Linked DNA regions of Homo sapiens: regions 2, 3 and 4 are each linked to region 1. The links come from fine-mapping of genetic effects on gene expression. A gene starts in region 1. Each other region holds a variant in brackets. All regions are shown on one strand. Distances are between the middles of the regions.

Region 1 (7,791 bases):
CCACGTGCTTACTTTTTATAATGTGAATACTAGAAACTTTAAGCACAAGTAATTTATATAGGCATTACATTTCTATTGGACAGCAGTGGTCTGTGGTCTGGCAGAACAGCATCCATATGACCAAGTGGATATTAGAAGTGCAGGTGATTCCTATGCACGTTAAAATTTGAGAAGCACTAGATTATCAACAGGGGAAGGAGGCTTAGAGACTACACCATTTGGCAGTTCAGTTCAATTAAAGAGCTAATCAATTACAAAACGAAACTGCAGAATATTCATTAAGTCCATGAAGTCAATGAAAGTAATAGGGAAATGGCTGAATCACAGCAAAGCCATATACCAATGAGCCGGGGCCAGCTAACTGAAGAAAAAAAAAAAAAACCACAAGGATAGTGGCCCAATAGGTTCCTCAAAAGAGGTAATCTGAAAAGCCCGATTTGAAGTACAGTGATGCTATGTCGTACTACGACACCTTTCACATCTGATTCATACTACAAAATAGTGCATATTTGCAATTCTAGCCAAAATTGTTAAATACAGGACAAAAGTTTAATTTCACTTTTCTCTCCCATGATTTATTGTAAAACTGTGATGCCCATTTTCTCAGGTAAGTAAAATATTAGTACTACTGTTTAATGGTTAAACAGATCACCACTATTTAGTTTTTACTCCATTTAAAAATTTTAATCACCCGTATTATTTTCAGTAATATCACTTACGTAGAGTACTTAAAAATTTGTAAAGTTCACTTTCTATCAGCCTACTAAAAAACCACTGAGCAGATTCTTTCTAATTAAAGAAAAGTCAAATGATTAACTACAAGTAACATGCTGTTTTTCTACAGCACTTAATCTATTTTCATTTGCACCTCGAAACAACTGGTATTAGCAAATATAAAACCGAAAGAGATGCAATGTATTGATAATTATATATGAACAACTAATATATATATAACTAACTATACAGACGGCATTATCTTAACAATCAATGAGTCATCAGTCTTCTCCAGCTTGATGAAGTACGAACAGAAATCTATCAACAAATATTGGCGCATAAATATACATACACACATTATATTACACTTCTGGGGTTTCTTTTTCCCCCACAGAGAAACACTTTTAGAACAGTGGAGCCGCATGCAACCAGGGGTCGCACATATGTGCGCAGACGGTCTGGCTCGTCAGGTGGCATGGGTGGGGGTCACGCTTTCACTGCCTGCTTTGGGCTCTCAAAACCCAGCTCTGAAACGTTTCCAAGGCAAAATAAAAATAGCCAAAATGCCTATTCAGACCAGAGGAGGTAGAGGAAGATGACCGATTCTGTAAAACACCCTCCTACAGATAAAGAAAAGGCGATATGGGCAAGTACACACACATCTAGGCCATCGTTCCCGACTTTTAAGTATGAAAGAGGCGTGGCTAGGGGCTAGATACTTATTTTTAACACTTCCATTGAAACACCCGGAGTCTCCCAAGGTCTAACCTCTAGAAGTCGGGTGGCAGAACCTGAATCAGAACCCGAGTGAGCCTTCCTTCCTCCACCACCTCCCTTTAGGAACGCATGCCTAAATAGTCGATAAAATCTACTTCTCAATGTCATGATTAACCCAAAAGCCAGCCACAACCAATCGTGTTATTAGAGTGCTAAAAGCCTCTATCCACAACAAACACTCCACTTGGGATGACATTAAAACTTTCGATAAAGGTGTACTTTCAACGTCGTGCTTTAGCCTTTGAAAATACATTTACAAAACTGCAGCTGCAGTCAAAAGGAAAACATCACACGCCTCGAAAGCTGAAGGGCGTGCCTTTTTCTCTAACGAAGACCGTGTGGCCATTTCTTCTCAAAGGGTCTGCAGTCACTTAAGATAGCAACGCGTAAAGGACAGCCGTTCTGAGAAGACAACCAGCTCCCCTGAGATGGGAGGCGGGCTGCACGCTGGTAAAGAGGATTTTTCAATTCAAGGACTTTGAGGAGATTCCGCCCAGATAAGCTGGAGGGGAGCGAATGCACGTCCATCCAGCAGGGGCAGGGCACCGGGAAAGACCGCAAAGAAGAAAGTGTCCGGTTTAAGGTCAACAGTCCTCGAGGGACGCCCCAGGTGGATTCCCCGGGTGGGCTCCCCGGGTGGGTGGAGGCCTGCAAGCCCCACCGCGATTAGGGAGTGGGCCCAGGGCGCGGGAGGGGCCGGGCCGGCCTTTTGCGCACACACACACACACACACACACACCCGCCTTTTGCAGACACACGCGCGCGCACACACCCGCCTTTTGCACATAGACACGCACACACCCGCCTTGTGCACACACGCGCGCACTCTCCCGCACTCACACACACACCCGCGCACCCTCACACTCTCCTCCCTGGGGGCGGGGCGGGCGGGCGCTGCCCTCACACAGGAAGTCAGGAAACCCAGGGGGCAGAGAAGCCACAACTTCGGGCCATTTAAACCCTCTCGCCCACGTCAGCCAATAGGCTGCGCCGGCCCCCTCCCCCTCGGCGCCTAACCCCCGCGCCCAGAGCCCCTCGCTGCGCGCCCGACCTCCCTTTGCGCGCACCTCCGCGGCGCCGCCGCCGCCGCCGCCGCGCCTCCCGCACACGCCTCCCCCCGACTCCACCGCCCTCGGCGGGCACAGCCCGGCCCCGGCGCGCCTTTGTGCAGCGCCTCGCCAACCTGCCCTCCGTCCGCCAGGACCCGCGCCCTGCACCTCACCGGGAGCCCGGCGGCCTCGCAGCAGGCGGCTCCCTTCTTAGTCCGCCCCGCGGCTGCGGGTCGACGACGCGAGCCCGAAGAGCGTTCACACGGCTACGGCCGCGGCCGGCCCGTCCCCGCAGGCTGGCCTCTGAGGGAGGGTAAGTTACAGGGCACGTCGGAGCGCGCCGGCGCGGGGGCGGGGCTCACGTGACGCGCGGGGGCGGGGCGGGAGGCTCACGTGATGGCCCGGGCGAGCTGGGCGGGCGCGGGTCTCCGGGACGGTCTGGGGTGGCTAGGGGGTGCGGCGCCCGGCGGGGATCCGAATAGGGGGCAGCCAGCGTACGGTGTGGGAACTCGGGCCGGCGCGGGAGCCTGCGGTCAAGGGGGCTCAGCACTTTGTAAACAAGGAGTGGGAAGCGTTAAAAAAACGCTCGTAGGGAAAACCAGGGAAGGGCGGACATAGCGCCAGGGTGGCAGGAATGGAGCCCGGGCAAAGACGGCCCTGCCGTGGGCCCTAGCGCTCCCTTCGTCGGCCCCTGGAGCTGCGGCCGGGCGTGGGTCAGTCGTTCACGGGCCCGGAAATTCCACTGGGACACCCGAAAAAGTGCTGCACGCCGCCTGAGGGAGACGGAAAGGGACCCGGGGCACTGAGTCCATTGCTGGGGTCGCCAGGGTACGTGGCAGGACCCGCTGTGCACACTCGGGACTGAGGAGACCCCTGGGACGCGGAGAGCCGCTCCAGGGCAGAACCAGTCCGTCAGCATTTAGCCTTCCACGGGCCTGAGGGTGCGAGCCCTGCGGGGGCCACAGGGTCATTGTCCAAAGTCATCCCCGTTTGCACTGTGGCAGCACCGAACCCGGAAGTAACAGCTTTGGCAGGTCTTTGATGGTGATCCAGTGGCAGGAGGAGCTCAGCTGGAATGGGAATCAGGAAAGAGACCTGGCTTCTGCCATTTATTGGCACTTCACCCTTCTGAACCTCAGCTTTCAAATGAGAGCTGGCTTCTAGGTCTAGAATACAGTGAGTGTGAGAAAAATAACTGAGAGGCGTTGGGACTTCAGTAACTACTCATTCCTTAACCAGTTGTTGATTGTGCCTGTTGTGCCAGGATGAAATATTTGTTAATAATAGAGACCAGAAAGGAGAGGGGGGAAAAAACAAGCATATGTATGATTCAAGCAATGAAGAGCTACTCTCCGGAGTTGGCTCTTTCCTGTGCTTCACTTCGTACTTGAAGATGCCACAATGCCTGGCTTCCTTATCAACCAGCTGAACTCCGAATTGTGCCTTACAGGATGCGAAGAATCCGGTAGGGCAGTGGCAAGACTTTAACAGCTGTGGTTTACAACCTTCTTATTAAATTAAGTCTAATGCGAGCTAAAGTGTTAAGATAGTCTCCATTTAGAAAGGAAAGAGGCTTACAATGAGAATTTTTGAAAAATAAGCCTGAGACTGTGCTGTCTCTATCGTTGCATTTGCTTTTCACAGTCCTTGGCACCCACTGCCTTTTTGTCTCCCTCGGTTTCTAACCCGTTCTGTTTTCTTGCATTTGTTCAGTATAAGGAGTATTTCCTGTATGCTTTGGCAACTATTTTCCATAGACTCTGCTTGTGTTCTCCTTATAAAACCAGAACAAGAGCAGTGCAAAAAAGAAAACGACCCTGATAGGAATGCGCTGATAACCTTACTTTCCCTACTCTCCAAACCTGAATTGGGCACCCTTGGTTTTAGCAAGAGATAGAACTCAACAGTTTGCATACACTTGCGGATCTGCCTGTAACCCCACTTCCTATTTCACAGCCTAATCTCGGATGATACCACAATGCCCACAGTATGCTGATCACCACCAACAGCAGATGGAGGCGGATAAAAAGAGCTTTCTCGCTAGTGTGTTGTTTTAAAAGAACCTGATGGAGAGCTATGATCATATGTAACACTGCCTCTAGTTAGTTTTTAAATAACACTTGTAGCATATGTCTGGCGCCTGTGCTCAGGATTTCAACAGATCATTTTCAGGATTTTGACATTTAACTGGCTTCTTATGAAGTAGCAGAGAGTTCCAAAATGTAGAACTGAAATATAAGCTCCACACACAGGCAGAGATTTGAGTCTGATTTGTTTGTGTGTATATCCCAAGTGCCTAAAAGCACTTGGCATACGGTAGATGCACAATAGATTCCTGTTAAATGTATTTTTAGGTGAAAATGTAGTCTGTACTTTGCATAAACTTGTCCTACTTTCTTCCTAGTTCTTTAATAAGTAACCTACTTTTCATTATATATTTTTAAATGAAAAAACAAAATTATATCTGGCATCACTACTTTGGCTGGGCTATAAAGAAACAGGAATTTGGCAGTATGTATTAAAATTACAAATGCATATATACTCGGAGCCTTGAATTTCATTTCCAGGGATTTATGCCACAGATGTTTCCACACATAAGAAATAACAAGGTGTTTCTTATTGTTGAGAATAGCAAAAGATTGGAAACAAGCTAAGTATCTATCAACAGGATACTAGTTAAATTATGATAGAGCCATATGTTTGAACATTGTGCAGCTGTTAATCAAAAAAACAGAAAGTTCTTTGTTTTAACATTAAGATCTCCAAGATTTTTTTGTTAAGTGAAAAACACAGAAATACGGTACAGAATATTGTATTAAATTGTATATGCATTAAACTAGGACAAAGTAACATGAGGTATGAGAACACAGTAGATGGAAAGCATAAGAAATAGACTTCATTGTATTCATATTTAAACTTTTTGATATTCAAAATTTCAGAATGTTTTATCTATTCAAATAGTGAAAATGTTTAAAATTTTTCTGGCATCTTTTTGTTGTTGTTGTTGTTATTAAAACATTCAGGCTTCTTCTGTTTTATAAAAGTTTACCTGAGTAAAATAAACATATCAAGGAGGCTGGGTGCAGTGGCTCATGCCTATAATCCCAGCACTTTGGGAGGCTGAGGCGGGCAGATTGCTTGAGCTCAGGAATTCAAGACCAACCTGGGCAACATGGCAAGACCCCATCTCTAATGAAAATACAAAAAAAAAAAAATAGCCAGGCATGGTGGTGTGTGCCTGTGGTCTCAGCTACTCCAGAGGCTGAAGTAGGAGGATCACTTCAACCCAGGAGGTGGAGGTTGCAGTTAGTCAAGATTGTGACACTGCACTCCAGCCTGAGTAACAGAGTGAGACCATGTCTCAAATAAATAAATAAATAAATAAATAAATAAAATCAGGTAAGCTAGTGCTCATAGGCAAACTTTTGAAAACCTCAGAGTTTTTGTTCAGATTGAATGATGTCTGTTTCTTACCGTAATAATTTAAAATCCAGGTACATTTATTTTGAGGCTTAGTATACATTTTATCAAATGTATATAAATTTTCAGAAGTACTCTATTTTTCTTCAAGTTTAGTAGAGCCTTCCTTGAACAAGTTTTAACAAATTGGATCCTCCATTTTAAACAATAAAATTAGAATTTCATGGATCATTTGTCTGTTAATTAAGGTCAACAAAATATATTTTGGGAAAAACGCTAAAGGCATATGTTTCTCGTGTATCTGTTCACTCACCCATTTTGTAATATCAACTGCTTCTTGTTTCCATGGGTTACACAGATGCCCTGTAAATGATTTTGTCTGATATGTTTCAGTATTTGATTATATTTATTTGTGGGCTTAATTTCCAGAAATCTCAAAGAGAATAATGAGTACAATAGCAGTCAGATTTGCATAACACATCTTTAAGGGTTTTAGGAGATTTATTAATATTTTCTTGTGAAATCTCACTGCTTTCACTATATAAATTCATATGATCAGTTTTAACTATTATTAAAGACAAATATTAGTACTTGTGGTCAGGTGTGGTGACTCACACCTGCAATCCCAGCACTTTGGGAGGCTTAGGCAAGTGGGTCACCTGAGGTCAGGAGTTCAAGACCAGTCTGGCCAACATGGTGAAACCCCATCTGTACTAAAAATACAAAAAATTAGCTGGACATAGTGGTGCACGCCTGTAGTCCCAGCTACTCAGGAGGCTGAGGCAGGAGGATTGCTTGAACCCGAGAGGCAGAGGTTGCAGTGAGCCAAGATGGTGCCATTGCACTCCAGCCTGGGTAACAGAGGGAGACCCTGTTTCAAAAAATAATAATAATAATTAGTACTTGTAATAGTTGATTATACAAATTAGGACATTCTTGTCATACCCAACTAACTCAAAGAGTCCAGGAGTGGGGGGAAAAATCACTCAGGGCACATAGCACCAGCTCCAAAAATTAAATTTTCTGCAAGCCCAGCTGCTAAAACAGCCTGCTGTAACCATAAGAATAGTTTTACCTAGTAGCTGCTGAAATGACCTACTGTGACTCATAGACTAGTGTTACCTACTGCTGTCTTCAGCAATCAGAGTTTGCCAGCTCCCCAAAGCTTCTCCAGTAGCAGTGAGCTTTCTTTTAAAACAAAACATAACATTTCTCCTTCTAATAAACTACCAACCTTCTTTTTGTTCTTTGAGCATACCAAAGACCACCTGTATGTGCATATATATATATATATATATATATATATATATATCCCAAATTCCAATTCTGTGATTCCCAAATAAGATGTTTAGAGATTCATCTCTATATTTTATTTTGATTTCTACATACTTGAAGTCAGAAGTGGGATCCAAAGCAGGCTCACCTTGGAGAATTAGCACCTGGAATGTGGCATGAAGTACCCAAATTCAGGCCTCTTGAGCCCCCAAACTTCTACGAGCCACCTCTTTTCCCCATGGTGAGTCTCTGTTGGCTTGAACTCATATTTTTTCTTTTGGTTTAGTTCAGTTTTATTTGGGAATTGGTTGGGAGGCATCCTTCCCCGCTACCAGCTATGAAATCTTCTGTTTAGGGGAACTTTCTCCCTCCTTGCTATAGACTTGGTTAAGATGAATACGTTTTTCTTCCTGGTTATGAGGACTCCTGTTTAAAAGGGATTTTTTTCTCTCTTTTGTTAAAGAAGGCTTATTATCCCTCTTGGGGAGTACATACTTTATTTTCTGATTCATTTGCACACTTGGATTTTAAATTGGTTTTTGTGGCCAGGCGCCAT
Region 2 (7,791 bases), 870 kb before region 1:
CAACCGTAATGTTAAAAGGCAAATACCTAAAGCAACTATTGTTAGAATCAGGAAATAGGTCGGAATACCTACTGTATTAGTCAAGGGTCAGTCAGGAAGCAGAAGCTACACCAGTTATTTTAGCAGAGAGAATTTAATCTAAAGAATTATTAACTAGGTATTAAATTGTTCATGAGGTAGCTAAAAGAGAACTTGAGATCACAGAAATAGGAACTGCAGAAAACTGCTACTGCTCTGTGATTGGGTGGGATCAAGAAAAGAGGTTGGATTTATTAAAGCTTAGGAGCTTGGAGAAGGGCTGTCTTGGAAATGAAGCTCAGACTTCTGAGTAGAAAGTGCTGATAGTATCTCCGGGGGAGATACGGCATTTAGAAATACTGTCAGTTGGGTTCACTTGTTGCTACAGGAAGGAACTGCTGCTGCCAAGATGAAGAAGCATTGGTGGGATGCCACTCATATGAAAAAGAGGCAAATAGGGAGCCCCCAAAAAAACATGCAGGAAGGAACAAGCCTCTTCCTCCTCCTTCAGCCTGTGAGCTCCGTGAAGCACCTCTATCAGCACAGTTTAATGGGAGCCAACTTGCAAAGCAAAAATAAGGTTTGAAGTTCTAGCCCAGGCATTACCAGCCCAGTAACAAAGGCTGGCTTTGGAAGTAAGACACAATAACTTAATAAATGGCATATTTACTATCATCGTTTTATTCAAAATAGTTTTGGGATTTAGGCTAACCCGGAAGGTTTAAAAAACCCAAAATAAACCATAATAATATAAATGCTTGGGAAAGGGGGCAATTCATTTTATTTGCAAAGACATTATTATACCTAGAAAACCCACAAAACTGTATTAGAACATGTTTTAAAATAAGAGAATTAGGTAAGGTGGCAAGATATAAGATAAATATACAAATATAATGTAATTTGTACTAGCTACAACTTTGTTGTGTATCAAAACAATCATACCACAGTGGCTTACAAGAGCAAACGTTTATTTCTCACTAACTTTACATGAGGGCTGATGGTTGGTGTTGGGAAACTCTCCTCCATATGTTACTCTTTTTCCTACACATCTTGCTGGGTGTGCTAAGCATGCAAGGGCCTAATCATTTCCTACCCAGCCTTTTCTCAGGGTTATGTTTACAACAAGCAACCTCGAGGGAGGAGGTGATTTTTACCTCTGGGACAAAGAGCTGGCTTGCTCACTACTTGCTATGAAATCATGGGAATTTAAGTTCTATATTCCTTTCCTGTAGCGCAACCCAGCATTTGTTCAGGCATCCATCTGGGCCTATTCACATCATCACTGAAAATGAAGACTCAGGGAACCAAAACAGACATGCTGACATTCTGACTACTGCTTTTGCTGTAATCAAGTGTTTTGTCTCTAACCCAAGTGTCTTCATTCAGCATCCATGAAACTGGCAAGTTAACATGTTGGCTTGAAAGTAAGGCGAAATATGAGACCCTTCCCAGTTCTTCACAGTTGGCTGCTACACTGCTTCATGCTGTGTAGGAGGTCAGTAGGAGGTCTGCTTCACAAGCTGTCTCATTCTGGGATCTAGACTGAAGAAGTAGCCCCTACCTGGACATTTCCATGTCATGGAGCAGAAGCTCAAGAGGCCAAAAGAAATCACAGAGCTGATTTAAAGTTTCTGTTTGGATGTACTTGTGTCACATCCACTCACATTCATTGGCCAAAACAAATCCCATGGCCAGCCCAAATTGGGGGAGGAAGCATGCTTCATCTCTGAAGGTATTGTAAATTATACCCAACATGCATGAATGTATAGTCCTCTAACCAAGGAGGGAGTAGTTAATGACAAATAATATAATTTACCATACTCACAAAAAGTAGTTAAATATAAATGGAAAATAAAGCCCTCTTCCCAACAGCCAAGAAAAAAAACTCTAAAAAAATTTAATAAAAAATTACAGTGTCTATATGCAAATCTTTTTTCTTGAAGAATATAAAGTAAACCTTAATAGATGAAAACTTATGCCATGTTACTGGATGGAAATATAGTATGATAAAAAACTTCTCTATTTTAATGCAAATTAAATCAGAATCTTAGTTTATGGTGTTCTTTAAAATGAAAATGAGTTATATATCCATCTATGGACCAGCTAGATCATCTATGAGAAACTGTTAAGTGATAAAGCAAGTTGCAAGAAAATGTGCAATATAATACCATTTTATTTTATAAGATAAAAACATTGCATGTTTGTGTGTATGTTAATGTAAGTATGAATACATTTATAGGTACATGAAGAATAGGGTAGATGGATAACTTGATTTACATCAGAGGGATTAGTTTGTAGAGAGGCTGGGGGAATGATTCTTTTTTCTTTATGTATCTTTATATTGTTTAACAATGGAGTTCAGTCCAACAGTAAATTTAAAAATCACACTTTGGGAGGCTGAGACGGGCTGATCACCTGAGGTCAGGAGTTCAAGACCAGTCTGGCCAACATGATGAAACCCCGTCTCTACAAAAATACAAAAATTAGTCTGGCATGATGGCGGGTGGCTGTAATCCCAGCTACTGGGGAGACTGAGGCGAAAGAACTGTTTGAACCTGGGAGGTGGAGGTTGCAGTAAGCTGAGATCGTGCCATTGCACTCCAGCCTGGGTGACAGAGCGAGACTCCATCTGAATAAACAACAACAACAAAAATCAGAGAATCATAAAAAATATTTTAAACCTAGCCTAAGTCTCTATTAGAAGGTAGCATCTTACTTTATTTTATTTTATTTTATTTTATTTTATTTTATTTTATTTTATTTTATTTTATTTTATTTTTTGAGACAGGGCCTCATTCTGTTACCCAGGCTGGAATGCAGTGGTGCAATCATAGTTCACTGCAGCCTCAAATTCCTGGATGCAAGCAATCCTCTTACCTAAGCCTCCCAAGTAGCTGGGACTACAGGCATGCATCACCATGCCTGGCTGTTTGTTAAAAAAAAAAGTTGTAGAGAGAGAATTTTGCTATGTTGCCCAGGTTGGTCTGGAACTCCTGGCTTCAAGTGATCCTCGCTCTTTGCCTCCCAAATTGTTGGGATTACAAATGTGAGCCAATGTATCCAGACTTAGTTTTTATTTTAGATTCAAGGAGCACATATGCAGGTTTGTTACATGGTATATTGCATGATATTGACGTTTGGGTTTCTAATGGGTGGCATATTTTAGACCTGTAACATATTTGTACTCATAGAATGAACAAATAATGTGCTTATAAGGTTCAGATATGAGAAGAAACCAGGCAGTCATGTAGCAACTGCCATTAGCAGCACTAATTACTCTTCAAAACCAGCTTGGCATTCTTGAAAATACCCCTCATTAATATTTTTCTTCTATAAGGCAGCTGAAGATGGCAGCCCAAACACACAAATCTGATGAGACTTACTTATATATCAAAGTTAGATCCAGGTATATTGCAAGCAACAGGGATTCAACTTCCTCAGTGTGTTTCATGTGAAGAAAACACCAGTCAAAGGAACTATGTAGCCCTCGCTTAGCTTTAATGCATTTAAATCCAATTTACATAAACCTTATTTTTATATGGGTAGGCTTTATTATTATAGAGTGCAATTCTCTGCATATATAATATTAATATGGGAACATATGCAGAAGATGTAATGGCTGTAAAGATTTTGTATAAAGTAGCTGTATTAGTCTGTTGTCACACTGCTATAAAGAACTATCTGAGACTGGGTAATTTATAAAGAAAAGTTTAATTGACTCACAGTTCTGCATGGCTAGGGAGGCCTCAGGAAACTTACAATCATGGCTGAAGGTGAAGGGGAAGCAAGGCACGTCTTACATGGCAGCAGGAGAGACAGAGTGAGGGGGGATGTTTCACACTTTAAAACCATCAGATCTCATGAGAACTAATTCACTATCACAAGAACAGCAAGGCAAGAATCTGCCCCCATGATCCCGAGAGGTAACAGCATGCTGGCAGCCCTCGCAGCCCTCACTCACTCTTGG[C/T]GCCTCCTCAGCCTTGGTGCCCACTCTGGCCACACTTAAGGAGCCCTTCAGCCCGCCGCTGCACTGTGGGAGCCCCTTTCTGGTCTGGCCAAGGCTGGAGCTGGCTCCCTCAGCTTGTGGGGAGGAGTGGAGGGAGAGGTGTGGGCGGGAACAGGCAATGCCTGCCTGCTTGGGGGCCAGCTAGAGTTCTGGGTGGGCGTGGGCTTGGCAGCCCCTCACTCGGAGCCGCTGGCCGGCCCCCCCTGCCCCAGGTAGTAAGGGGCTTAGCACCTGGGCCAGCAGCTGCGGAGGGTGCGCCAGGTCCCCCAGCAGTGCCGCCACACAGGCGCTGTGCTTGATTTCTCCCCGGGCCTTAGCTGCCTCCCTGCCGGGCAGGGCTCGGGACCTGCAGCCCGCCATGCCTGAGCCTCCCCGTGCAGCCATGGGCTCCTGGGCGGCCGAGCCTCCCCAACGAGCACCGCCCCCTGCTCCACAGCGCCCAGTCCCATCAACTGCCCAAGGGCTGAGGAGTGTGGGCACAGGGCGGGACTGGCGGGCAGCTCCACCTGCGGCCCTGGTGCAGGATCCACTGGGTGAAGCCAGCTGGGTTCCTGAGTCTAGTGGGGACTTGGAGAACCTTTCTGTCTAGCTAAGGGATTGTGAGTGCACCAATCAGCACTCTGTGCCTAGCTCAAGGTTTGTGAACACACCAATCAGCACCCTGTGTCTAGCTCAGGGTTTGTGAATGCACCAGTCGACACTCTGTACCTAGCTAATCTGGTGGGGACTTGGAGAATCTTTATGTCTAGCTAAGGGATTGTGAATGCACCAATCGGCACTCTGTATCTAGCTCAAGGTTTGTAAATGCACCAGTGGGCACTCTGTATCTAGTTAATCTGGTGGGGACTTGGAGAATCTTTATGTCTAGCTAAGGGATTGTGAATGCACCAATCGGCACTCTGTATCTAGCTCAAGGTTTGTAAATGCACCAATCGGCACTCTGTGTCTAGCTCAGGGTTTGTAAATATACCAATCAACACTCTGTATCTAGCTAATCTAGTGGGGAGGTGGAGAACTTTTGTGCCTAGCTCAGGGATTGTAAACACACCAATCAGCACCCTGTCAAAACAGACCGATCAGCTCTCTGTAAAACAGACCAATCAACTCTCTGTAAAATGGACCAATCAGCAGGATATGGGTGGGGCCAGACACGAGAACAAACGCAGGCTGCTCAAGCCAGCAGGGCAACCCGTTCAGGTCCCCTTCCACACTGTGGAAGCTTTGTTCTTTAGCTCTTTGCAATAAATCTTGATTCTGCTCATTCTTTGGGTCCACACTGCCTTTATGAGCTGTAAGGCTCACCGCGAAAGTCTGCAGTTTCACTCCTGAAGCCAGCGAGACCACGAACCCACCGGGAGGAATAAACAACTCCAGACGCGCCGCCTTAAGAGCTGAAACACTCACGGCGAAGGTCCGCAGCTTCACTCCTGAGCCAGTGAGACCACGAACCCACCAGAAGGAAGAAACTCTAAACACATCCGAACATCAGAAGGAACAAACTCCGGACATGCAGTCTTTAAGAACTAACACTCACCGTGAGGGTCCGCGGCTTCAGCCTTGAAGTCAGTGAGACCAAGAACCCATCAATTCCGGACACAATCCAATCACCTCCCACCAGGCCTTTTCCCCAACACATGGGGATCACGACTTGAGATGAGATTTGGGACACAGAACCAAACCATATCACTAGCCGTTTTAATCACTGGAGAAGAAAATTTCACAATGCTGAAGAAATTTTCAAAGAACTATGTGTTCTGAGTGCTGCCACAAGTTTATTTGAGTGGATATGTAGAAGCTATTCCAGAATGTTTCTTTTAATCTACAGTCACACGTTAGAATGTCTTACCTGCTGACATCACACTTTGAGTTCTGCAAAAGATCAAATCATTGCATTTCTTTTTTTTTTTTTTTTTTTTTTTTTTTGAGATGAAGTGTCGCTCTGTGGCCAGGCTGGAGTGCAGTGGTGTGATCTTGGCTCACTGCTACCCCTGCCTCCCAGGTTCAAGTGATTCTCCTGCCTCAGCCTCCCGAGTAGCTAGGACTACAGGCATGCACCACCATGCCCAGCTAATTTTTGTATTTTTTAGTAGAGATGGGGTTTCACATGTTGGCCAGGATGGTCTCGATCTCTCGACCTCAGGTGATCTGCCTGCCTTGGCCTCCCAAAGTGCTGGGATTACAGGCATGAGCCACCGCTCCCGGCCTGCATTTTCTTATCATTAGTTTGATGCATCTTATGATTTCCCCCAAGAACTTTGGGCTACACCATGTGTTTCTGCATGACTTGTGGTTAAATAGGATGCAGAATAAAAGGAGCTGTTTTCTCAAGCCTTTGGTGCTACAACTAAACCTGATAATATCTTTGAAGCTCTGTCAAAATTCTTCCAAACAAATGAGATATTAAAAATTGATAACAGGACCAGGTGTACTGGCTCATGCCTGTAATCTCAGCATGTTGGGAGGCTGAGGCAGGAGGATAACTTGAGGCCCAGAGTTCGAGACTAGCTTGGGCAACATAGCAAGACCCTGTCCCTACAAAAAAAAATAAAAACATTAGCCAGGCATGGTGTTGTATGTATGCCACTTGTGCCAGCTACCTGGGAGGCTGAAGTGGGAGGACTGCTTAAGCCCAGAAGGTTGAGGCTGTAGTGAGCTATGATTGTTATCTCTGCACTCCAGTCTGGGTGACAGACAGTGACCATGCCTCTAAAAAAATAAAATAATTAAATTTTTTAAAAACTTGATAAGAATGTGCATTTAATATTGCTCCAATAATGTGGAATTCACAGTGAGGAATTTGACAGGAAAAAAATCAGGTATTCACTGCTAAGCATCCAAAACCCTGCCTGGCAATCTAAGAGAATTGTTCATATTATTATCAAGGTTGTCAATCCCATGGAAAGTATTAGAATACATGCCTTGCTTTGTGAGAACTTGAATGCTCATGGCAAAGTTCTCATGTTCTATCCTGAAGTTTCCAAGTTATCACAAGGAAAGATATTTGGCCAAAGAATATAGGTACTTCATTTTCAGAGTGTTAAGCTACCAATAACTTCACACTGTCAAAACTAATACCTTTCACTGGGGCTTTGCATATTTGGCAGATTCAGTTGGAATTTTGTACATGGAACCTGAAATTTTAAGAGGTGGATCCTGATATTAGTGTGTATTAAGTTTACTTCAGGCAGTTTTAACCAAAATCCAGCTACAGCAAGAGCAAATTGCTGCTAAAATTGGCCTCTTCTCTTTCTGACTTAATTCTTGAAAGTGATTTCATGGGGGAAAGAATGTAAAACATCATCTAATTTGCCTGCAAGATAAATTCAGGTAATAATTTTTGTGACATTATAGCAAAAAATTTCATTTGGAAGTTTGGAAGGAAATTGTTACTCACTTAGACATTTTTTATTTGCTAAACGATCCCCACAAGGAGATTTGGGGAATCAGATTTAATTTCATTGCAACTTCCAGAAAACAATTTGGAAAAGCTTTGGATAAAATGGGTTCTTATTTAACCCCAAATAAGTGAGAAAGCTTTGCATGTCCTCATCCAGTTTTCATTGACTATGCTTGTGAAAACTTTTTCCTCAATTTTTGCATTGCTGGCTATGAAAACAAAGCAGCATGATAGGCTTGATAAATGACATATATTGTTTTCTTGCAGCCAAACTTTAGGCTTGTGTGCCTTCTCAGGTACTGCTTTCCTTCCCTGAAATTCACCTTTCCTCAACTTGTTAGCTAAGCTAATTTCTCCTTGTCCTTCAAAT
Region 3 (7,791 bases), 140 kb before region 1:
GAAAATTTCTTCGCAATGATCTGTTCTAGAAGAATAGGGCAATACAACCCTGAAAAAAAAATGTTAGATTTCTTATTCTTCAAATGTGATTTAAATGTTTCTACTTTTACCACTGTCTCCCCTGTAACCAGCTACCAAAGAAATCAGCTTCATGGTTTTGGGTGATGGGGAGTGAAGGTTTCTTAGTCTGTTTGTTTGTTTGTTTTGTTTTGTTTTTGAGACAGCATCTTGATCTGTTGCCCAGGCTGGAGTGTAGTGGTGCAATCTCTGCTCACTGCAGCCTCGAACTCCTGGGCTCCCTAATAGCTGGGACTCCAGGTGTGTGACACCACGCCTAGCTTATTTTTTGTTTTTTATAGAGACAGGGTCATGCTGTGTCACCCAGGATGGCCTTGAACTCCTTGGCTCAAGCGATCCTCACGCATCTGTTTCCCAAAGTGCTGGGATTACAGGTGTGAACCACTGAGTCCAGTTGCTTCGGTTTTAAGATGGTGTTCCTTAGAAGCAAAAAGATAATAATTAAAACAACATCAATGCCAGCAGTGGCTAAAATGCAGTTTCTAAGGCCTTATAAGTTTAATCCTAGCTCATTCCACCACAGAGAAAAATCAGTAATAATAATAGAAGTATCAATAATAATAAAGCTGTAGTGAGGGATACAGTCCACAGAAAACAAAGCACTTGCTGAATTTTTCTACCTTTTCATTCTATGCTATTGTCAATAACACTCACTAAACAATATTTCATTTCTCATCACACTCAGAGTCAGGGAAACAATTTAGCTGAACCTAACGCCTAACTATTCCAAGTTCTCAAAAAGTATAACTATGCATTTATATATCATATTCATCCCCGGGGCATCTCAGAGACAAAGTATCTCTCAGATCTGAGAGCAGCTGTCTGATGGTCAGACCATCAGTCAAGTCAGAGAACATGGAACCATGTCAAGAAGTAGCTTCCCTGGTGACTAGAAGAGGAGGGCGGGAAGAAGGAGGAGCGAAAAGGTGGTAAAACTATCAGGTACCATGCTCACTACCTGAGTGATGGGATCATCCATACCCCAAACCTGAGCATTACACAATATACGCAGGTAACAAAACTGCACGTGTACACCCTGAATCTAAAATAAAAGTTGAAATTGATAAGTGTTCCATTGCTGTGAATTCAGGCTTGTGGAATTTTTACATTTAGTTGCATTGAATTCAGATAATAATCAATGCTGTATTCCACTCAGTTGACCCTCTGCTGCCGAATATAAACAAATCAAACACAAGCAGAATGTTCACTATCCTGCTTCTCATAGCACTTGGGCAGGAGCCAACAGGGCATGTCCCTGTATATGCCACAGCTTCCCGTAGCCCTGAGCATAAGTAACAAGCCTTATCTATTGGTTGTATTGCCAGCAGCAAAGCCTGGGCTAAGGCACCAATGACCCTGGATGAGAACTAAAACCTGTAGGAGAAACTGATCTGTAGGTGATCCAAAATTCACATGAAAAAATGAACAAATAAGTCAAGAAAGTTATTGAAAGGATAAGTAATGGGGGAGGGAGAAAGACAAGTTCTACAAGCTAGCAAAATATTCCATGAAGTCTCAATAAATGGTATAACATGAGCATATGAATTATAGACCAATAGTATAAACAGGAAGTACTAAGATGAACCAACATATGGAAATTCAATATGTGATAAAGGTGTCATCACAAGCCGGTGGGGCAAAGATGACTTTTAAGTTGGGATAACTGGGTAGGACAGATATTTTATATATTTAGAAACATAGAAAGTGAAACATGGAATCATAAGAAAACACAGGTAAATTCCTTTTTATCCATGGAGTGAGGGAAGATCTAACCACAGGTCAAGATCCAGACACTTTTTTTAAAGAAAAGAATAATAAATTCAACTATATAAAAATAAAAAATGACTATATGACAAAAAGAAAAAATCGAGAGAAAAATGACAAACTGGCAAAAAAATCAACAACTTACATCATGGACCAATAGTACTCAAACTTTTTGGTCTCAGGAACACTTTGCCCTCTTAAAAATTATGAAGGGTTTCAAAAGTTGTGTTTATGCAGATTTTATCTATTGCTATTTACCATATTTGAAATTAAAATGGAAAAACTATTTTTAAAGTTTTTTACATATTTTTAATGTATTAATTGAAAATAAGCCTATTTCACATTAATATAAATATTTTATGAAAACTAGTTTTTTAAAACAAAATATAGATATTACTTTATACACTTTGTAAATTTCTTTAATATCTGCATTAATAGAAGACAGCAAGATTCTCGTAGCTGTTTCCACATTCAAGCTGTTGCTTTGATTGAAGAATACGGGGGAAAATCCAGCTTCACACATATATGTAACTGGAAAAGGGAGGAGTATTTTAATAACCTTTTTAGATAATTATAGATATTTTTCATAACAATAAAATGTGACAAGTGGAATCTGAAACCATATCAATGAACTTTTCATGCTTTATTAAATTATAACCCACCATTCTATCTTGCAATTTGAATGGCTTTTTTATCCATCATGTATACTATCACGCGCGCATTGCTCTCCTTTAATACGAACTGGTTCACCACATTGTGTTGACCTTCCAAAGGTTGACATATCTCATTATACAACATTTTAAAAATCAGATTTGTTAATATTTCCAGTAATCTCATCCCAACCAGCCTTGAATACTGAGAAGCTGTCAGCTCATTGTGGTGAATACAAGTTTTTAAAATTCTAGTTTTCTCTTGAAAGCCTGAATTTTGCCATTAACAAATACTCCTGGTCCTTTCCCTTAAGGTGACAGGATCACTTCATTTGTTTTTGAGAAAGCATCTGCCAGTTATCGGAGTCTGAGTAACCAGAGATTGTCCGTAATTCTTTCAAATAAAAAATGATCCTCCATGAAAAAGTAGCTAGTTCAGTTTGTGACTCAAAAAGTGACTTCTGGCCAGGTGTGGTGGCTCACACCTGTAATCCCAGCACTTTGGGAGGCCGAGGCAGGAGGATGGCTTGAGCTTAGGAGTTCGACACCTGTCTGGACAACATGGCCAAGCCCTGCCTCTACAAAAAATACAAAAATTAGCTGAGCATGGTGGCACACTCCTGTAGTCCCAGCTATTCAGGAGGCTGAGGCAGGAGGATCGTGTGAGCCAGGGAGACAGAGGCTGCAGTGAGCTGAGATCACACCACTGCATTCCAGCCTGGGTGACAGAGCAAGACTCCCTCTCAAAAAAAAAGTAACTTCCTCGAGATAATCATCATACTACGGTAAAAATGTTTTATGTGGCCAGGCATGGTGGCTCATGCCTGTAATCCTAGCACTTTGGGAGGCTAAGGTGGGTGGATCACGAGGTCAGGAGTTCGAGACCAGCCTGACCAATACCATGAAACCCCGTGTCTACTAAAAATACAAAAATTAGCCAGGCATGGTGGCACACGCCTGTAATCCCAGCTACTCGGGAGGCTGAGGCAGGAAAATCGCTTGAACCCGGGAAGCAAA[G/T]GTTATGGTGAGCCGAGATTGTGCCACTGCACTCCATCCAGTCTGGGCGACAGAGCAAGACTCTGTCTCAAAAAAAAAAAAAAAGAAAAAAGAAAAGAAAAGAAATGTTTTATGTGCACTTCATATTTCAACACACAAGTAAAAATTTGAGAAAACTAAAAATGTATTGCTTCATTATTGACATTTTTAAATGAAATTGCCTTTTTTTTTCTTCAAGTACGTGAAGAATACAATGGTATTAGTTTGATGCCATTTCCTTGATTCATGAGGTTAATATCACTAATAAGGGAAAATCTCACATCATATACCTTCTGATGTGCTAGGCTGAGAAGATACAATCTGCATTTCACCTGAATCTTATCAGATAGGCCTAACTTGGGTTGCGGGATATTCTGCAAAAGAAATGACCTGAACTCTTCAAGAAAGTCAAGTCATGAAAGACCAAAAAGTGGGAAGAAAAAAGACTAAAGAAACTGTACATATTCAAAGAGACTGAAAAGACACGAAAACGCAATGCATGATCCTGAATTGGAGCCTTAAAAAATTAAATTAGTAAAAGGGAAATTCTGGAAATATTTGGTTTGAATTCAGACTCTACATAGTAGTATTGTAGTGTATCAAGTTAAGTTTTCTGATTTTGATCATTGTCTGCAGATATGCAACTGAGTATGTTTTTGAAAGAAATACATTCTGAAACATAAAACATATAGCACATATAAGAGAGAAGTGAGAGAATGACTAAGTGGTCAGCTGGAACAGGGTGAAAGATATATGGGAGTTCTTTGCACTATTCTTGAAATTTTTCTATAAGTTTGAAATCATTTCAAAATAAAATTTTTTAAAGAAAAGACGGGAATAAAATACCAGTTTGCTTATATTTGTATAAATACTGAAGTGATAACAAGAATAAAATAGTGACCTGGAGTGGGACATGGAGTGAATGAGAACAGGGTGGGAGTGAAATTTCTCATGTATTATATATCTTTTAATATCATTTTGACTTTTAAACCTAGTATAACTAAATTTCTTTTTTTTTCTTTTTTTTGAGACTGGGTCTCACTGTGTCATCCAGGCTGGAGTGCAGTCATGCAATCACTGCAGCTGTGAGTTCCTGGGCTCAAACCATCCTTCAACCTCAACCTCAGCCTCTTGTGTAGCTGGGACCACAGGCACAGGCCACTGCAATAGGGGTCTTAATGTGTTGCCCAGGCTAGTCTTCAACTCCTGGTCTCAAGTGATTCTTCCGCCTTGGCCTCCCAAAGAGCTGCGAATACAGGCATTAGCCACCATGTCCAGTCTAAATTAAATCTTAAAAGTTCGTTATTATTATTTTTTAGAGACAGGGTCTCGCTCTATCACCCAGGCTGGAGTCCCATGGTGTGATCATAGCTCACTGCAGCCTTGAACTCCTGGGCTCAAGCGATCCTCCCACCTCAGACTCTGGAATAGCTGGGATTACAGGCATGCAGCACCACACCTGGCTAATTTTTGTATTTTCTGTAGAGAAGGGGTCTCACTGTGGTGCCCAGGCTTGTCTCAATCTGCTGTCCTCAAGCGATCCTCCTGCCTCAACCTCCCAAAATGCTGGGATTACAGCCAATGAGCCACCCTAAAAGTTAAAAGTTTAATTTTTGAATATGTGTTTTTGCCCACTAGAATTGGCTCTGAATGTGTATCCACTTTTCCAGAGACCATTAAAACAATATGCCATCTAGCTACACAACTTTGGTTAATTTTGCTAGAGATAAGAAAGTGAACATTAAATAACCCCAAGAGGCAACTTTTCAAGCCTGTTTATATAATTACATCACAGATTTTATTAAATAATAATAAGGAAGCACTAAAATATTTACATTTTGCATTGACCCAGACAAGTTAGGTAACAGTTTATCCCTTCTATTTCGTTAATTTTTTCCTTCAAAGAGCCAGCTCTCCAGTCAACTTATTAGTTAGACCATTTTTCTGTGTTCTAATTAATTAAGTTCAAATTTATGTTTACAAATTATTTTATTTTACTTACCTTGGGTTTATTTTTAATGTTCTTTTAGTATATTCTTAAGTTAGGTCATGTATTTATTAATAAATAAGGCTATACCTTTTCTTCTGAGCACCCATAAGTTCTGATAGAGTTTTCTTATCATTTGTTTTTTTATATATTCAGTAATGTCAGCCAAGCTTTTCTTTTTTTTCTTTCTTTTCTTTTCTTTTTTTTTTTTTTTTCAAGAGAGGCTCTTGCTCTGTCACCCAGGCTGCAGTACAATGGTGTGATCATAGCTCACTGCAGCCTCAAATTCTTGGGCTCAAGTGATCCTCCTGCTTCAGCCTCTGGAGTAGCTGGGACTACTGTAGTGCATGCCACCACTTCTCGCTAATTTTTAAATTTCTTGCAGAGATTAGGTCTCACCATGTTGCCCAGGCTGATCTTGAACTCCTGGGCTCTAGTGGTCCTCTCTCCTCACCTCCCAATGTGCTAGGATTACAGGTGTGAGCCACCGTGCCTGGCCAAATTTTCCTTTTTGACTCAAGAGCTGAGTTGAGAGGTTTTTAACATCAAAGCAGTAGAATTTTTGTTCCTGATCTGGTTTCTGCTTTGTACTTTAGTGTACTGTGATCAGAGAATGTCTATATTCACTACCATTGAGAATTCACTGAAGTCTTCTTTGAGGCCTTATGGAAAAATTGTATGAATGTTTCATTGCCACTTAAAAAACAATGAGTTGTTATGTTCAGACATACACACACATATTTCTACCTTATCAATTATGATATTTAGGTATTTTTTAGTCTTACTTAATTTTGGTCCTCGATGTTTAATGAACTAAAACACATGAATTAAATAATTAAGATGCAGTGTTTTCTATATTTTTTCTTGTTTCCCCTATAGCTCTTCTCTGTGAATGCTGATGCTCTGTTATCTGGTGCACAGTTATTCATAACTTTTTTTTTTTTTGAGACAGACTCTAGCTGGAGGCACCCAGGCTGGAGTGCAGTGGCACAATCTCGGCTCACTGCAACCTCCGCCTCCCAGGTTCAAGCGATTCTCATACCTCAGCCTCTCTCTATATAGATAGTTATGTATCTATTCTATTATCAAGGTCTACAACTCCAACATTCAATTTTCAAATCATAATCCCTATATTAGTCTTGGCCTCCTATAAGTAATTTGATTCAATGCTTACTGCCATTTTTTATTGTTTTTCTCATTAATCTCCTGGTTATCTGAGTTTATCTTCTAACAGTATTCAGAAGTAATCACTATGCTAACTTTTGACACTGGTCTTGATTGCTGTTTTTGAAATTTTGAAATGGAATGTATAACCTCTGTCTTCAGTCTGTCATTCAACATTGTTTGTGAGATTCATATAGGTAATACGTGTCAGTAGTTAACTGGTTTTCATTACTGAAAATCAGTAATATGTTTAGATAATTAGTAATATGTTTAGATGTTTTTCTAGTCTTTATTCTGTTCAATTGTTCTGTCTGTATCTTTATATTAATATTAAATTACTGTAGCTGTACAGCAGGGCATCCAATCTTTTGGCTTCCCTGGGCTACATTGAAAGAACAATTGTCTTGGGCCACACATAAAATACACTAACACTAACAATAGCTGATGAGCTAAAAAATAATAATAATAAAAATCACAGCAAAAAATCTCATAATGTTTTAAGAAAGTTTGCAAATTTCTGTCGGGCTGCATTCAAAGCCGTCCTGGGCCGCTTGGAGTTGGTAGACTGTGGGTTGGACAAGCATTCTTTAGGGTAAGTTTTGATATCTGTTTTGATATCTGATAGAAGTTTTCAAACTTTACCCTCCTTCAACATACTTTTGACTGTTCTAAGTTCTTTTTGATGCCATACACATTTTAGGATCAGCCTTGACCATTTCCAGAAACGAATCTGCCAGGGTTTTGTTTTTTTTTTTTTTTTTTTTTTGAGACAGAGTCTTGCTCTGTCACCCAGGCAGTGCAGTGGGGCTATCTCAGCTCACTGCAAGCTGTGCCTCCCGGGTTCACACCATTCTCCTGCCTCAACCTCCCGAGTTGCTGGGACTACAGGCCCCCGCCACCTTGCCCGGCTAATTTTTTGTATTTTTAGTAGAGACGAGGTTTCACCGTGTTAGCCAAGATGGTCTCCATCCCCTGACCTCGTGATCCGCCCGCCTCGGCCTCCCAAAGTGCTGGGATTACAGGCGTGAGCCACCGTGCCCGGCCTCTACCAGGGTTTTAATTGGGATTGCATTGAATTTATAAATTAATGTTGTGGAGAACGGAGACTTCTAA
Region 4 (7,791 bases), 45 kb after region 1:
GTGGGGGGGGTCAGCCCCCCGCCCGGCCAGCCGCCCCGTCCGGGAGGGAGGTGGGGGGATCAGCCCCCTGCCTGGCCAGCCGCCCCGTCCGGGAGGTGAGGGGCGCCTCTGCCCGGCCGCCCCTACTGGGAAGTGAGGACCCCTCTGCCCGGCCAGCCGCCCCGTCCGGGAGGGAGGTGGGGGGGGTCAGCCCCCCGCCCGGCCAGCCGCCCCGTCCGGGAGGGAGGTGGGGGGATCAGCCCCCTGCCTGGCCAGCCGCCCCGTCCGGGAGGTGAGGGGCGCCTCTGCCCGGCCGCCCCTACTGGGAAGTGAGGACCCCTCTGCCCGGCCAGCCGCCCCGTCCGGGAGGGAGGTGGGGGGAACAGCCCCCCGCCCGGCCAGCCGCCCTATCCAGGAGGTGAGGGGCGCCTCTGCCCGGCCGCCCCTACTGGGAAGTGAGGAGCCCCTCTGCCTGGCCAGCCGCCCCGTCCGGGAGGGCGGTGGGGGGGTCAGCCCCCCGCCCGGCCAGCCGCCCCATCTGGGAGGTGAGGGGCACTTCTGCCGGGCCGCCCCTACTGGGAAGTGAGGAGCCCCTCTGCCCGGCCACGACCCCGTCTGGGAGGTGTGCCCAGCGGCTCATTGGGGATGGGCCATGATGACAATGGCGGTTTTGTGGAATAGAAAGGCGGGAAGGGTGGGGAAAAAATTGAGAAATCGGATGGTTGCTGGGTCTGTGTGGATAGAAGTAGACATGGGAGACTTTTCATTTTGTTCTGTACTAAGAAAAATTCTTCTGCCTTGGGATCCTGTTGATCTGTGACCTTATCCCCAACCCTGTGCTCTCTGAGACATGTGCTGTGTCCACTCAGGGTTAGATGGATTAAGGGCGGTGCAAGATGTGCTTTGTTGAACAGATGCTTGAGGGCAGCATGCTCGTTGAGAGTCATCACCACTCCCTAATCTTAAGTACCCAGGGACACAAACGCTGCGGAAGGCCGCAGGGTCCTCTGCCTAGGAAAACCAGAGACCTTTGTTCACTTGTTTATCTGCTGACCTTCCCTCCACTATTGTCCTATGACCCTGCCAAATCCCCCTCTGCGAGAAACACCCAAGAATGATCAATAAAAATAAAAAATAAAAAAAAAAAAGAAAAAAATAAATAAATAAATAAATAAATAAATACTCAAAAAAAAAAAAAAAGATATTAGTTGACTTAGAAAGATATGATGAGGGAAAGCAGATTACAAAAAGTAGCAGGTACAATATGGTATAGAATATGAATTCATGAATCATATTATATTCATGAATCAATTCATGAGTTCATATTCTATACCATATTGTACCTGCTACATAACATGTGTGTGTGTGTGTGTATATATGTAGCAGGAAAGATACACACCGAAAGGCTATAATGACACTCTGAGTGGTTTAATTGCAAGTGATATTTACTCATTTACTCATGTGTGCACACACACACACACACAATGTTTTTTCTATAATTAACATGCCCTATTTACCTATTTATGTCAGTTTTTTATACAGGTTAAAAAAAAGAAAGCATTGAGGCCTCAAGTAGGTTTAAGTACAGAAAAAAAAAAAGCCATGAAGTCCCACTGAAATCTGTAGCACCACATCATATCACACGTAGGTTTAATAACCTGCTCAGGAAAAACAGATGTCAAACTTTTAGGCTGGGTGTGGTGGCTCACACCTGTAATCCCAGCACTTTGGGAGGCTGAGGCGAGACACAGAGTGTCCCAGTGATGTGGTGAGAGGGGAAACATGTTAGCATAAGAGCATGTATAGTCCACAAAGGACCCATGATGGAGTCTCACAGGTCTCATTCCTAGCAAATTTCATGTAAAAGTTGATTTTATTTTATTTTTTGAAGCGGGGTTGTCACCGGTGAGCAGCAACTATCTGAGCTGGTGGTGTGGGTGTTACGAAAAATTTATTTACCAAGACAGTTGTAGGTAAAGAAAGGCAAATTTATTAAAGAAAGTATGAAAATACACGGCAAGAGAGCAACAGGCAGGCCAGCCCAAAGGAGCCGATGACTTCCAAGAGACAAAGGCATGCTGGGGATAGTATAGAATAGTGCGTATGCTGTATGCTGAGGAAGGCTCTGTGCAGTAGTGATAACACCAAGGTTGCGGTGAGCTAACTTGCAGGTTTCTGATAGTTGGGTGCAGGGAGATTGTGAGTTATTTGCACAGGAGGGCTACGTGTCCTGGACCATGAAGAAAGGCAGACTGATAGCTTATCTGCTGCTTCTTTTTGCTTTCCCCTGGTCCTGCCAGCTTGATTCCTTTTCCCTAATTAGGACTCCACAGAGGTCTTGCTTTGTCACCCGGCTAGAGTTCGGTGGTGTAATCATAGCTCACCGCAGCCTCAAACTACTGGGCTTAAGCAATCCTCCCGCCTTAGACTCCTGAGCAGCAGGGACTACAGGCATGTACTTCCATGCTGGCTAATTTTTGTATTTTGTTTTAGAGACGGGGTCTTCACTATGTTGCCCAGGCTGGTCTGGAACTCCTGGCTTCAAGAAATCCTCCTGCCTTGGACTCCCAAATTGCTGGGATTACAGGTGTGAGCCACCATGCCCAGCCTCAAAGTTTGGCATCTGTTTCCCCTGAACAGTTTATTAAACCTACATGTGATATAATGCCGTGCTAGAGATTACAGTGTGACTTTGTATGTTTTTTTTTTTTTCGTGAGACAGAGTCTCACTCTGTCACCCAGGCTGGAGTGCACTGGTGCAATCTCAAACCACTGCAACCTCCACCTCCTGGGTTCAAGTGATTCTTGTGCCTCAGCCTCCTGAGTAGCTGGGATTACAGACGTGTGCCACCATACCTGGCTATTGAGTCAAGGAAGGGTTTCACTACATGAGGTTGTTTGCTTGGCACTTTGCAGTTGCATTCTGCACAGCATGAGTTGTAAATATTTGAAAAGATTTCATGCTTCTCATAAGTAACCAAACCAAACTACATAGAAATATGCCCCCAAAATCCAGAACCCTTCTAAAGGGAAGGCTACAAACATACATACTTCTAACACAACCACTTTGTTGAGAATCGCCTCAGAAAATTTTGCTAAATGACATACTTGATTCAAAGAAATGCAATATCAGAACTTGAGAATACATAAGTGTTTAAGTTCCAGCCCATTTTTGCAGGTAACAGTTTATAAAATACTCTGGAATAAACAGTGAAGATTATTCTCTGTTTCGGGGTAATTATATACAGTGTTTCACTTGATTTTGTTTTGTTTTGTTTCAGACTGGGTTTCACTCTGTTGCCCAGGCTGGAGTGCAGTGGCACAATCATAGCTCACTGCAGCCTCAAACTCCTGGGCTCAAGTGATTCTCCTGCTTTGGCCTCCCAAAGCACTGGGATTACAGGTGTGAGCTACAGTGCCCAACCCAATGTTTCACTTTAAATAGTCCACTGAAATATAAGAAACAATTCATTTCAACAAGGATATGATGGGTAGCTACTGTTTCAGTTGCTGTGCTAGGTTCAGAAATCAAAGATGAATAAACCTCAAAAGCTAAAAGGAGGATGTCAAATGTTCCCAGTATAAAAAAATGATAGGGACCAGGCGTGGTGGCTCACACCTGTAATCCCAGCACTTTGGGAGGCCGAGGCAGGTGGATCACCTGAGGTCAGGAGTTCGAGACCAGCAAGGCCAACATGGTGAAACCCTGTCTCTACTCAAAATACAAAAAATTAGCTGGATGTGGTGGCAGGCACCTGTAATCCCAGCTACTCGGGAGGCTGAGGCAGGAGAATCGCTTGAACCTGGGAGGCAGAGGTTGCAGTGAGCTGGATCGTGCCACTGCACTGAAGCCTGGGTGACAAGGGCAAAACTCTGTCTGAAAACAAAGATAGGCTAGGCACGTTGGCTCACACCTGTAATCCCACTTTGGGAGGCCAGCGAGGGAGGATGGCTTGAGCCCAGGAGTTTGAGACCAGCCTAGGCAATATAGGGAGACCCTGTCTCCACACACA[CACACAT/C]ACACACACACACACACACACACACACACACACTCACACACATTAGCCAGCATGGTGGCATATGCCTGTAGTCCCAGCTACTCTGGGGGCTAAGGTGGGAGATGGCTTGAGCCCAGGAGGTCAAGGCTGCAGTGAGTCATGATCACATCACTGCAGTCCAGCCTGGGTGACAGAGCAAGACTCTGTCTGAAAAAAACAAAACAAAACCACTGAAGAAATGCTAAATGTTTCAGATGATGGATATGCTAATTACCCTTACTGGTTGCCATACGTTATATGTATGAAACGTCACTATGTATCCCATAAAAATGTATATCATTATTTTTCAATTTTAAAAATGATAAATAAGCCATGATCTTTGCACACAGGCCTTAGAGTTCAGTGAGGGGAACCAAGCTCCACACTGTGGATATGATGTCAGGGAGCATGGAGAGGGGATGCTGACGTGGGATGAGTGCTGGGCAGGTTTGGGAGGAGATAATGCTTGAACTGAGTCTTGCCAGGCAGACAGGGTGGAAGGGAAAAACGTCAAACTGACATAAAAGTGCAGAGACATGCAAGAGCCCAGAGTTTAAATAACTGCAAATAGTTCCTGAAGACAATTGGACTTCCACTTCTGGCCAAGGTGGAGTGACAGGGACTGGATTCAGCCTCCCATGTGAAAGGACAGAAAAAACAAACAAAATACGTAAAACAACAGATTTCAGACACTGCACACCAGGCAGCAGAGAACAATGATTCCTGAGAGAGGGAAAACAAATGAGGTGAGGCCTGTGATTACCTGAGCTCATTGCATGGAGAGAGCATTTAGAGAGGGGAAACGTGGGTGGAGCCTGGGGGCCCAGGCAGGCCATGGCATCTTGAGTTCACAGGGCAGAGTTCCAGAGGGGAGACTGCGGCACAGAGAGAGAGCTCCAGAGATCGGGGCCCTCAGGTTTTCAGCTGAGTACTAATCCACGCATGAGCGTGCAGAAACTACTCAAGACTCAAGAAAGAACCATGAGATCAGAGCAGAGGGAATAATCCTTGAATGAAAAACCTTGTAATTCACAGGGTATCAGGTAGAGTACTCTAAAGAGCATTTCCTCTGTGGTCTAGAATAAAGGCTGCTTTCATCTTGCCTAGCAAAGCTTAGGAGAAGCTTCAAAAAGATTAAACTGTTTCCAAACAATTTAACTGCTTCCCAGAATAAAGCTCAAGAAAATGTTTACAGGAATAGAAGACTAACACTTAAGGATGTGAAATTCACAGTGTCTAGCATCCAATAAAAAATTTCTAGGCTGCAAACAAAGAAAATACAATCAATAATGAGAAAAATCAATGTATAGAAACAACCCAGAAATGCATGCACATTAGTCAAAGAATTAATAGACAAAGTCATTAAAAACAGTTATTATAACTATATTCCATGTTTAAAGTCTACAGAAAAGACTGAGCAAATTGAACATCTAGATATGAAAAATGCAATATCTACAGTGAAAAATATGCTGGGACCAGGCATCATAACTGTAATCCCAGCAAATTGGGAGGCCAAGGCTGGAGAATCACTTGAGGCCAGGAGTTCAAGGCCAACCTGGGCAACATAGTGAGATGCCGTTTTCACAAAAAATACGAGGAACTAGCCAGGTGTGGTGTCACCCACCTGTAGTCCCAGCTAGTCAGACGCCTGAAGCAGGAGGATTGCTTGAGCTCAGAAGTTTGAGGCTGCAGTAAGCTATGAAAGTACCACTGCACCCTAGCCTGGACCACAGAGTGAGACCTTGTCTCTAAAAAAAAAAAAAAAAGGGAGAGAAAAATACACTGGATGGGATTGAGATTGACAGGAGTTTAGACAATGCAGAAGAAATGAGTAGTATAGTTGAATATGTAGCAATAAAAACTATCTAAAATGAAACAGTGAAAAAAGGTTGAAGGCAAAGCATCAGTGAGCTATGAAGCAACTTCAAGTTGCATACACTGTATCTGAGGCCAAAGTTGATTGATCCATGGCTGGACACCTTGAACATGGCTGGGCCAGTGAGTTTTAGGACCCAGAATCAAACTAGTCTCACTCTGGGTGACTAAAGCAGAAACATGGAGATCTTTGTGTTTTCCACCACATAGGCCGAGCAGCAGAAATCATCAATCTGCAACAAAGGGAGAAAGAAACAGACATTCAGAGGAAAGTTGATGTATAATTTGGAGAAATGGGCCCGGCGTGGCAGTGCACACTGGTAATCCCAGCACCTTGGGAGTTCGAGGTGGGCGGGTCGCTTGTGGTCAGGAGTTTGAGACCAGCCTGGCCAACACGGCAAAACCCCTTTTCTACTAAAAATACAAAAATTAGCCAGGTGTGGGGGCGCCCTCCTGTAGTCCCAGCTACTCAGGAGGCTGAGGCATGAGAATTCCTTGAACCCAGGAGGTGGAGGTTGCAGTGAGCCAAGATCATGCCACTGCACTCCAGTCTGGATGACAGAGCAACTCTGTCTCAAAAAAAAAAAAAAAAAAAAAAAAAAGAGAAATAAATCATTGCAATTTCCAGGTCTTGGTTCGAGTTGTTTCTGAATCTAGCTCTATCCCTGTGCTATTTGGCTTCTCCTTAGAGCCCATGAAATAAGGGTTTTTTGTCACATAAAATGAAGAAGTCCTTAGCTTATATAAAGATGATGCCTTTGATTTTTGGACATGTTAAGATTGGAGTGTCTGGGATATCAGTGTGGAAATCTACACTAGGCAGATGAATGGACTTACCTAAAGCTCAAATTCCCATTTTTATTCTATTAATCTATGTTTACCTAAATCCATAGGAATGTATGAAATTGACAGTGGAGAACCTATAGAGGGAGACAAGATAAAGCCAAGGATGGAACCTGGAAAAAAACCACATTAAAGAGACAGGAAGAAGAGCTTCCAGGAAAGGAGTCTGAGCAGGAACATCTACCAAGCTAGGTTGAGAGCACAGCATTGAGGGAATCGAAGGAGGAGAGAATTTAAAGAAAAGGGAAATGGAGAACAGTGTCAGATTCTTAAAGGGCATGACCCTAAAACGTTCCTGACCCTTGACTGACAACCACCAACTTCCTGTATTTCTAACCTTACTTCCTTTTCTCTGCCCATATTTACCACACATACGTCCATATTTCCCTGTTTCTGATCTCAGCATGCTATCTTAACCATAGTGATTAGTCTCTTTTAGGGTAGTTAGATTTTGGCGATCTTAACCCTGCATTCTTCTACAATATCTCACCCAATTTAGACCCAATTAAAGACCCAATCAAAGCAGATCAACAGGGAAGGGCTGTGAGCCCTACTCCTCCAAAAGATAATTGCATGCCAATATGACTGCCAGAGTCAAGGAAGGAGCTGGAGGAGAACGTATGGTTTCAATGAGAGGAAATTGGCATCATCCACCTATTAAAGCTCTTTTAGGAGGCACATATGCATAGGGACAAAAGCTCATGAATGGCATCTATTTAGATTTGCAAAAAGCCTTTCACAAAGCTCCACACAAAAGACTGTTTTAAAAATTGAATCATCATGGTATGATGGAGACTGGTGCAATGCATGAGGAAGTTGCTTAGAGACAAGAAACAATGGTTCAGGAAAAGGCACTTCTTGGAGGAAGGAGTGTAAACATTGGCATTCCCCTATGAGTATCCTTGTTTACTATTTTTATGAATTATTGAAGGTGGGTAGGTACAGTGACATTAAGTTCTTCTGATCATGAAAATCCCCACTATATGAGAATAACCTAAAGTTAGTGTGAGGCTATGTGAATAGGCAGAAAATATTGCACACATCAGCAAAAAGAAGA

Direction of the effects. Positions count from the first base shown, and alleles are read on the strand shown. Sizes are in standard deviations (SD) of each study's normalised expression. Not every link is listed here.
As copies of C replace T in region 2, the expression in whole blood of the gene that starts at base 2,862 in region 1 goes down (moderate effect, 0.64 SD a copy in GTEx).
In carriers of allele C in region 4, the expression in monocytes after R848 of the gene that starts at base 2,862 in region 1 tends to be lower than with CACACAT alone (moderate effect, 0.54 SD a copy in Quach 2016).

What was found.
Region 2: its variant is fine-mapped to the expression of ARHGAP12 in whole blood (GTEx, PIP 0.96).
Region 3: its variant is fine-mapped to the expression of ARHGAP12 in whole blood (TOPMed, PIP above 0.99).
Region 4: its variant is fine-mapped to the expression of ARHGAP12 in monocytes after R848 (Quach 2016, PIP 0.91).

Annotation. Positions count from the first base shown.
Region 1 is chr10:31,925,970-31,933,760 of GRCh38, forward strand. ARHGAP12 (Rho GTPase activating protein 12) reads right to left here and starts at 2,862. Exons shown (of 20, transcript NM_018287.7): 1 at 2,714-2,862. LOC107984219 (a long non-coding RNA gene) reads left to right here. Exons shown (of 3, transcript XR_001747415.2): 1 at 1-2,074; 2 at 2,693-2,853. RefSeq lists a silencer at 2,534-3,033.
Region 2 is chr10:31,051,707-31,059,497 of GRCh38, forward strand. All of the region lies in intron 1 of LOC105376481 (a long non-coding RNA gene), which reads left to right. Among named protein-coding and RNA genes, the nearest start is that of ZNF438, 24 kb to the left of the region's middle. The variant C/T (reference allele first, on the strand shown) is at 3,986.
Region 3 is chr10:31,781,578-31,789,368 of GRCh38, forward strand. No RefSeq gene overlaps it. Among named protein-coding and RNA genes, the nearest start is that of MACORIS, 78 kb to the left of the region's middle. The variant G/T (reference allele first, on the strand shown) is at 3,510.
Region 4 is chr10:31,970,510-31,978,300 of GRCh38, forward strand. The region is part of intron 2 of LOC107984219 (a long non-coding RNA gene); the gene reads left to right. Among named protein-coding and RNA genes, the nearest start is that of ARHGAP12, 46 kb to the left of the region's middle. The variant CACACAT/C (reference allele first, on the strand shown) is at 3,993.